2 linked regions of the Homo sapiens genome follow. The protein of the gene in region 1 interacts with the protein of each later gene in a pairwise test. Each region holds a gene or a part of one and is shown on either strand. Other genes may lie near its edges. The genes, in order: CNPY4 and AIFM2.

The links.
Region 2: the proteins of CNPY4 (region 1) and AIFM2 interact in binary tests that used the Homo sapiens proteins (3 or more experiments, as listed by UniProt).

Annotation. Positions count from the first base shown.
Region 1 is NC_000007.14:100,122,593-100,126,280, reverse strand, and holds the end of CNPY4 (protein canopy homolog 4 precursor), read right to left. Parts: intron 3,498-3,688; coding exon 3,375-3,497; intron 1,768-3,374; coding exon 1,650-1,767; intron 1,557-1,649; coding exon 1,393-1,556; 3' UTR 773-1,392; downstream 1-772. UniProt on the Homo sapiens protein: Plays a role in the regulation of the cell surface expression of TLR4.
Region 2 is NC_000010.11:70,115,826-70,119,638, forward strand, and holds part of AIFM2 (ferroptosis suppressor protein 1), read right to left. Parts: intron 2,096-3,813; coding exon 1,987-2,095; intron 950-1,986; coding exon 797-949; intron 1-796. UniProt on the Homo sapiens protein: A NAD(P)H-dependent oxidoreductase that acts as a key inhibitor of ferroptosis.

The sequences.
Region 1 (3,688 bases):
AACCTCCGCCTCCTGGGTTCAAGCGATTCTCCTGTCTCAGCCTCCCGAGTAACTGGGATTACAGGCGCCCACCACCATGCGTGGCTTTTTTTTTTGAGACGGAGTCTCGCTCTATCACCCAGGCTGGAGTGCAGTGGCACGATCTTGGCTCACTGCCAGCTCCGCCTCCCGGGTTCCCGCCATTCTTCTGCCTCAGCCTCCCGAGTAGCTGGGACTGCAGGCGCCTGCCACCACACCCGGCTAATTTTTTGTATTTTTAGTAGAGACGGGCTTTCACCGTATTAGCCAGGATGGTCTCGATCTCCTAATCTTGTTATCCACCCGCCTTGGCCTCCCAAAGTGCTGGGATTACAGGCGTGAGTCACCGCGCCCAGCCGCCCGGCTAATTTTTGTATTTTTGGTAGAGACGAGGTTTCTCCATGTTGGCCAGGCTGCTCTCGAACTCCTACACTCAGGTGATCCGCCTGCCTCGGCCTCCCAAAGTGCTAGGATTACAGGTGTGAGTCACTGCGCCCAGCCTCCAGGCTGGTCTTGACCTTTTGGACTCAAGTGATCCTCCCATCTCCACCTCTGCAGTAACTGGGACTACAGGCGCTGCACCACCAGCCCTGCAGTCTTCTTTGTGTGTGTGTGTGTGTGTAGAATTGGGGTTTCACTATGTTGCTCAGGCTGGAGCTTGAGCTTAACAAGACAGCGGCCATTCTGGGTGCTGCCTCATCGACCAGCTAGCTATGTGTGCCCGGCTGTTGTTTGAAACTTTGGGCCCAGCTAGTTTTTAGAAAAAAAGAAAAAAGTTTAATAGCGATATAGAAAATTGAGCACCTATAAAACTATATGGTGGGCTCTGGGTTACATTGAGCTTAAGTAGACCAAGTATCTATCCCACCTAAATTATCAGCAACTCCAGGCCATGACCCAGTGTCCCATTCTCCTTCACGGTTTGCTGGTGTGTAGCCTCCTGGATACAGGCAATGTATATAGATCGCAGAGAATGTCCGTTCTGGCCTCTTCCTTGGAAGGGTCTAAAAACAGACCTTAAGGAGCTAAGTGACTTCCCCAAAGCCCACAGCTCCAGTGCCACTGCTGACTTTTGGGTGGGGGTGGGATCAGTTAAAGAGGAAAGCTTTCAGTACTGTCAGCACATACACCTGCCAATTAAGGGGCTGGATAGAGTTCATCTCTAGGAGCAGGACCTCCACCCCCACCCTCCACCCCAGAAGCCATGTCATGCTGTTTCACCAGGATCTTGCCTGAGGTTAGATGGGAGAGAACAGCTACAAGCTTGGGTGGAGTCACTCATAAACACACCCTGAAAGCTGTGGAGCAGGGAGAGTGCAGGCTTTAGAGGGCTCTCCATGATCCCTTCCCCTCCTGGGGGCTCAAAGGCAAGGGTCAAAGATCTTCTCGGTCAAGTTTGGGGTGGCTTCCTGTCTTGGTCATCTTGTCTCCCCCTTCCTCTTCCTCCTCTTCCTCCTCCTCCTCCTGCTCTTCCTCCCCTTCTGTTTTCTCTTCCCCATCTGTGATCTCCTTTCCAGTCCAAGTTTCCTGTAGACATGCTAGATCGGATGACAGAAAACAATTTAGATATTAGTCCTGGAGGCAGGGGAGGCTATGGCTTGGCAGGAGAGGAGTTCAACCCTTACGCTTACCAGTTTCAGCAGCTGGGAGCACATGACCTTCACAGAGAAAATTTTGTAGGGGCTGCTCCTGATGGTGGAAGTACCAGTCTCCCACAATGTCTTCAAACTCCTCCAACATGGTCTCACACTGGTCAAGTAGAAGGGCCAGAAGAGTATCTGCTCTGGAGGGATTTGGGATCCCGCCTGTCTTCTCTCCCTGCTCAACCTGACTGATTTTGGAGAGGCAGGTAGCCAGGAAGCTAAGTTTGGCCTACTAGATGTGCAATCCTCATTCATTCAACAAACATTTACCAGCACCTATTCTGCCAAGTAGATTATTAAACTCTTGAGTCTCAGCTCCTTGCCTGTAAAATATGTATGGTAATTGCACCTACCACATCAGGCTGTTAAGGGTAAAATGAGGCTACAGATGCAAAGTATCTGGTCCAGAGTCTGGGACACAGTAGGTGCTCAATAAGTGATGGTGGATATCATTAGCAACCATTGTTACTTTTTTTTTTTTTTGAGATGGAGTCTCGCTCTGTCACCCAGGCTGGACTGCAGTGGTGGGATCTCAGCTCACTGCAACCTCCGCCTCCCGGGTTCAAGTGATTCTCCTGCCTCAGCTTCCTGAGTAGCTGGGACTACAGATGCATGCCACCACACCACCACGCCCGGCTAATTCTTGTATTTTTAGTAGAGACAGGGTTTCACTATGATGGCCCGGCTGGTCTTGAACCCCTGATGTCGTGATCCGCCTGTCTCGCCCTCCCAAAGTGCTGGGATTACATACGTGAGCCATCGCACCTGGCCCATTATTACTTTTTAAAAATTTTCCTTAAGGCAGGGCCCAATGGCTCATGCCTGTAATCCCAGCACTTTGGGAGGCCAAGGCGGGTGGATCACCTGAGGTCAGGAGTTCGACCAGCCTGGCCAACATGATGAAACCCCGTCTCTACTAAAATTACAAAAAATTAGCTGGGCGTGGTGGCAGGGGCCTGTAATCCCAGCTACTCGGGAGGCTGAAGCAGGAGAATGGCTTGAACCCGGGAGGCGGAGGTCGCGGTGAGCCGAGATGGTGCCGGTGCACTCCAGCCTGGGCAATAAGAGTGAAACTCCGTCTTGAAAAAAAAAATTCTTTAAAATTATTATTATTTGTAGAGAAGGGGGTCTCTTATGTTGCACAAGCTGGTCTCTAACTCTGGTCTCAAACAGTCCTTCTCCCTCAGACTCACTAAGTGCTAGCATTACAGTTGTGAGCCACTCCACCCGGCTCATTATGATTTCTTTTTTTTTGTTTTTGTTTTTGTTTTTTTTTTTAAGATGGAGTCTTGCTCTGTCGCCCTGGCTGGAGTGCAATGGTGCGATCTTGGCTCATGGCAACCTCCACCTCCTGGATTCAAGCAATTCTCTTGCCTCAGCCTCCCAAGTAGCTGGGATCACAGGCGTGCACCACCACGCCCAGCTAACTTTTGTGTTTTTATTAAAGACGGGGTTTTGCCTTGTTGGCCAGGCTGGTCTCGAACTTATGACCTCAGGTGATCCACCTGCCTCAGCCTCCCAAATTGCTGGGATTACAGGTGTGAGCCACCGCACCCCACCGCTCCTGGACCCACTTTAATCAATGGCACAGTCCTCACTCTGGCCCCTTCCCCATGCTTAGGGGTAGACATCCCCTATAGTCAAACCCTAGAACCTAGCTCCCCTCTCAGGTTCCCTTCTCACCTCCCTGGATGGTGCAGTGTCTTATCCTACCTGCTTCTTGAGGTATGTGACCTCCACGCTGGGCTCATCCCAAAGCTCCAGAGGGATCCCCAGATCCACCTTCACCCCCTTCTGCACTAGGCCTTTCAGTGTTGCCATGGTCTGACTCTGACCCTGAGAGATTAAGAATTTGGCATCAGCCCAGCTCACCACCCCACCCCTCCCTTCCCCTTTCTGCCATTTCAGTTTTGTCAACTACTGGAGATTCAAGGGTGAGTTCCATGATGGTGAGATGATGGGCAGATAACCTCTGGAGGGCCTCAGGGGATACAGATCTTTGTATCTGAGAAGTGGGGTCCTGCCCT
Region 2 (3,813 bases), on another chromosome or scaffold:
TGGCAAACTGCTTTTTTAAAGGGACTTTTAAAAACTTGTATTTGAAAATACAACATTAGGACAATTTGGTATTAAATTCTGGGATCTCTGTCCATTATAAGCCCTCAATCCCACTGCTACACACAGCCTGGACTGGCTTCCTTTTCCTGGGATTGGATCATTACTTCCTGCTGGACACAAGGCAGGAGCTCCTTGTCAGGGAAGGGCATTTGGGAGTAAATGACAGGGAATTGAGGACACAAAGCAACCACCAGGCCTGGCCACTGAGTCTCCTGCTCACAAATGGAGGCTTAAACACACATCAGTCCACCTCTGCCACCTCCAGCCAGCTAAATACGCAAATACTGAGCTTTAAGAAACGAGGCCATGTTACCAACCCCACTCCCCAGTCAATCCAAGCTCAAGAGACCAAATGTTTTGATCTGGGTTTGGGGGCGGCAGCACGCCTGCCAAGAGAGGAAGGCCTGACCCTGAATTTCCTCTGTCCTCAGGTGAGGGGGAAAGAAACACCACCAACCTTTGTCATCTCTCTGACGCCTGTTCCCATCTCTTACCACTAGGGGGCGGCCCTAATTTCAGAAGATTCTGGTCACCTTGGCCACCTGGGGCCGAGCCATGGTCACAGCTGAGGAGAGCTCAGCAAGGGTGGACCCTCACTGAATTTAAAGTCTGAGCTGTTGGGAAGAAAGGGGGAAGGCAGCAAGGTGTGGACTCCTGGGGGCAAGCACTGCAGGGCATTCAGAGGGTACTGGAGAGCAAGGAGGCACAGGGGAAGCCCGGCTGGGCACCTGCTCACCAAACGCTTTGCGGTAGGCGGAGCTGTTGATCTTGATGCCGGTGCAGAGAATCACCAGGTTGGTGGCCACCTCTGTGCCTTTGTCCGTCTGCACTTTGATGTACTCTCGATACTCATTGAGAGGCAGCTCCTCCAGATTGCTCACCCGCTCACCTAGAAGGGGGTTCATGACCAGGAGGCTGGTGGGGACAGGGACCCCATCAAGCCTGGACCCCAGGCCAAGGCTAACCCTGGGGAGGGCCTGGACCTCTGGGGCCCAACTGGGCAATGGCTGCACCCTGTCTTCCCACCATGCCCCTCCCTCAGTCCACTCTATGCCCCACAAAGCTGATCTGGACATCTGGCCCCGAGGGGTCCCTCTGGAGAAAAGTTCCAAGAAGCCCCTGGAGGGAAGCGAGGCTGTTTCCCAAGAAGTTCTCAGAAAAGCTGTTTAATGGAAGATCTCAGACGCGCCTCTTATGAGTGCCAGCCGTGCCATCCTAACTAGGCAGGACGAGCGCTCCAAGTGCACCACGACAAAGGGGAAAGCCAGAGAAAGAGAAGCCAGCTCGCTACACTCACTGCCTAAAGTGACAGTGACGGCAGCACTCCACAGCCAGTTACCAAAAGGAGGCTGAGGCAGCCATGCGGGCCCTTCACAGGACAGGTGCCTCACCCTCCCGCAAACAGTGAGGGGGCTGGGGCCCCATGCAGTGAAGTGTAGGGGCCACAGCGCTGGAAGAGAACCTCACTTTCCAGCATTTGCTGGGTGGGTCTCGTCCCCTGCTCTACAAGAAGGCCACACTCCTCACCACTCTCAAAACATAAACCAATAAACCTATTCCCTCAACCACAGAGACATCCTATTTGGGGCAAATCCTTCAGATGCACTCAAGAAAAATCATTCAGCAGACAGGCATCCCACCATCTGCACTGCATCCAAAGCAATAACCAGGACATGGAAATCCCGTAAGTACCAGGCCCTCTTCCCTGCCCAGGGACGGGCACAACTTCCAGCTGGACAAGGCTCAGATGGGCTTTGATGTTCACGGCCTCTTCTGAGCGCTTCATGCTCCACCCCAGGACACAGTGGAAAAGAGAGAGCCTGGGGTGGACCATAGCCACCCTCCTGCTGGAAGCAGTCACCAAGCCTCCAAGCCACATCTCACCAGGCCAGGGCAGGGCAGGGAGGGAGGTGAGGGTGCACGTACTCAGCAGCAGCTGCACGCCCTTCCGGAGGAGGATCTCCTTCACTTCCTGCCGGACGGAGGGCAGGAGCTCCTTGTCAGCCAGGGCCACTTGGGAGTGAATGAGAGTGACCTGAGGACAAAACGACCACAGGGCCTGAGAAGGAGCCCCCAAGTCTTCAAACACAATCATTGCACGAACGTCCACCTCCACTCATACCTCCAGGTTACAGATGAGGAAACTGAAGCTCCAGAGAAGTAATCTGTCCAATGCCAGGACCAATTAGTGGTGAGCTGGGCTTAAGCCCACATGTTCTAGACTAGGACTCTTTCAGTACCCTCCTGCCACACCCAGGCCAGAGGACTACCAATATGCCAACATGTCACAACCTACACCTCACCTAGGGCCACCTGGAAAATTATCTTCAAGCATCCTTGGGCACTTATAATTATACAAGCCATGGGCATTCCAACAGTCAATCAGACTGATGTCAACATTAAAGCTTGTTTAAAATTAGTGCTTCCAGGCATGTCTACTTGCTGTCTGGGACAACACAGGGAAGCGTCCCGGGCACCTCATGTTGCAATCATGTTCAAAGCCTGGGCTTTGGTATCAAATTGCCTGGGTTGAAATCCCATCTCTGATACTCACTTGGACACCTCCCAAAGGCTCATTAACATGGGCACAATAGCCCCACTCATAGGAATTTTGTAATGATGAGCAAAAAAATACGTACAAAGCATGTAACTCAGCACATATTAAGTCCTTAATAAAGGGTGGCTGCTACTACCCTTACTGTCTACAAATCCTAAACATGTGGATATTTTACTGAGTTACTTGAACTTTTTTACTACTTCAGACTGGTCTGACCCCTGTGAAATAAGAAGAAAAGTATATATTGGTCTCTGCCCCCAGTTCCTGATGCAGAGCTCTTAAAACCCTTGTAAATTGGGGTACTAAGAATCATTTGTTCTAATATTTGGTCCTCATTGCCGGTTCTTGATACAGAGCTCCTGAGATCTTTGTAATGTCCTGAGTGATGGGAGGGTCTGACATAGAGCTCCTAACTCCTTGGATGTTCCCGGGTGATGGGAGCATCTTTTGTTCTAATGAAGCTACTCCTGATGGGCTCCTGGATGATCGCTGGTCACCAGAGAGACCAAGCCAGCTTAGAAGTCTGGAACTTTCAGCTCCAGTGACGAGAGGGGGCTGGAGATTGAGGTCATAATCAACCTTGCCTACCTGATGAAGCCTCCATAAAAATCCCTAAAGTACAGGGTTCAGAGAGCTTCCAGGTTGGTGAACATGTCCACATGCCAGGACAGTGATGCACCCCAACTCCATGGGGACAGAAGCCCCTGTGCTCAGGACCCTTCTAGACCACGCCCTATGTGCCCCTTCATCTGAATGTTCATTTTTATCCTTTAAAACATCCTTCGTCATAAATCAGCAACAGCAAGTAAACTGTCTCCCTGGCTTCCATCAGCTGCTCTAGCAAATTATTTAACCCAAGGAGAGAGTCATGAGAATCTCTATCTTGTAGCCAAGTGGGACAGAAGCGTGGGTAAGCTGGGGACCTATGGACTTGCAACTGGTGTTTGAAGTCGGGGCAGGATCGTGGGACTGAGCCCTTGACCTGTGGGGTCTGCGCTAACGCCAGGTAGTGTCAGAATTGAATTGAACCGTAGGACACCCAGCTGGTGTCAGAGAATTGGTCAGTGGGGGAAAAACCCACACATCTTATCCCAGAAGTGTGGAGTGAGTAGGGAGAAAAACAGTTTGGTTTTTCCCTATAGAACCCTCATACATCAAAATGAATGAATGTAACTAGATCAATCACTCATCATAAT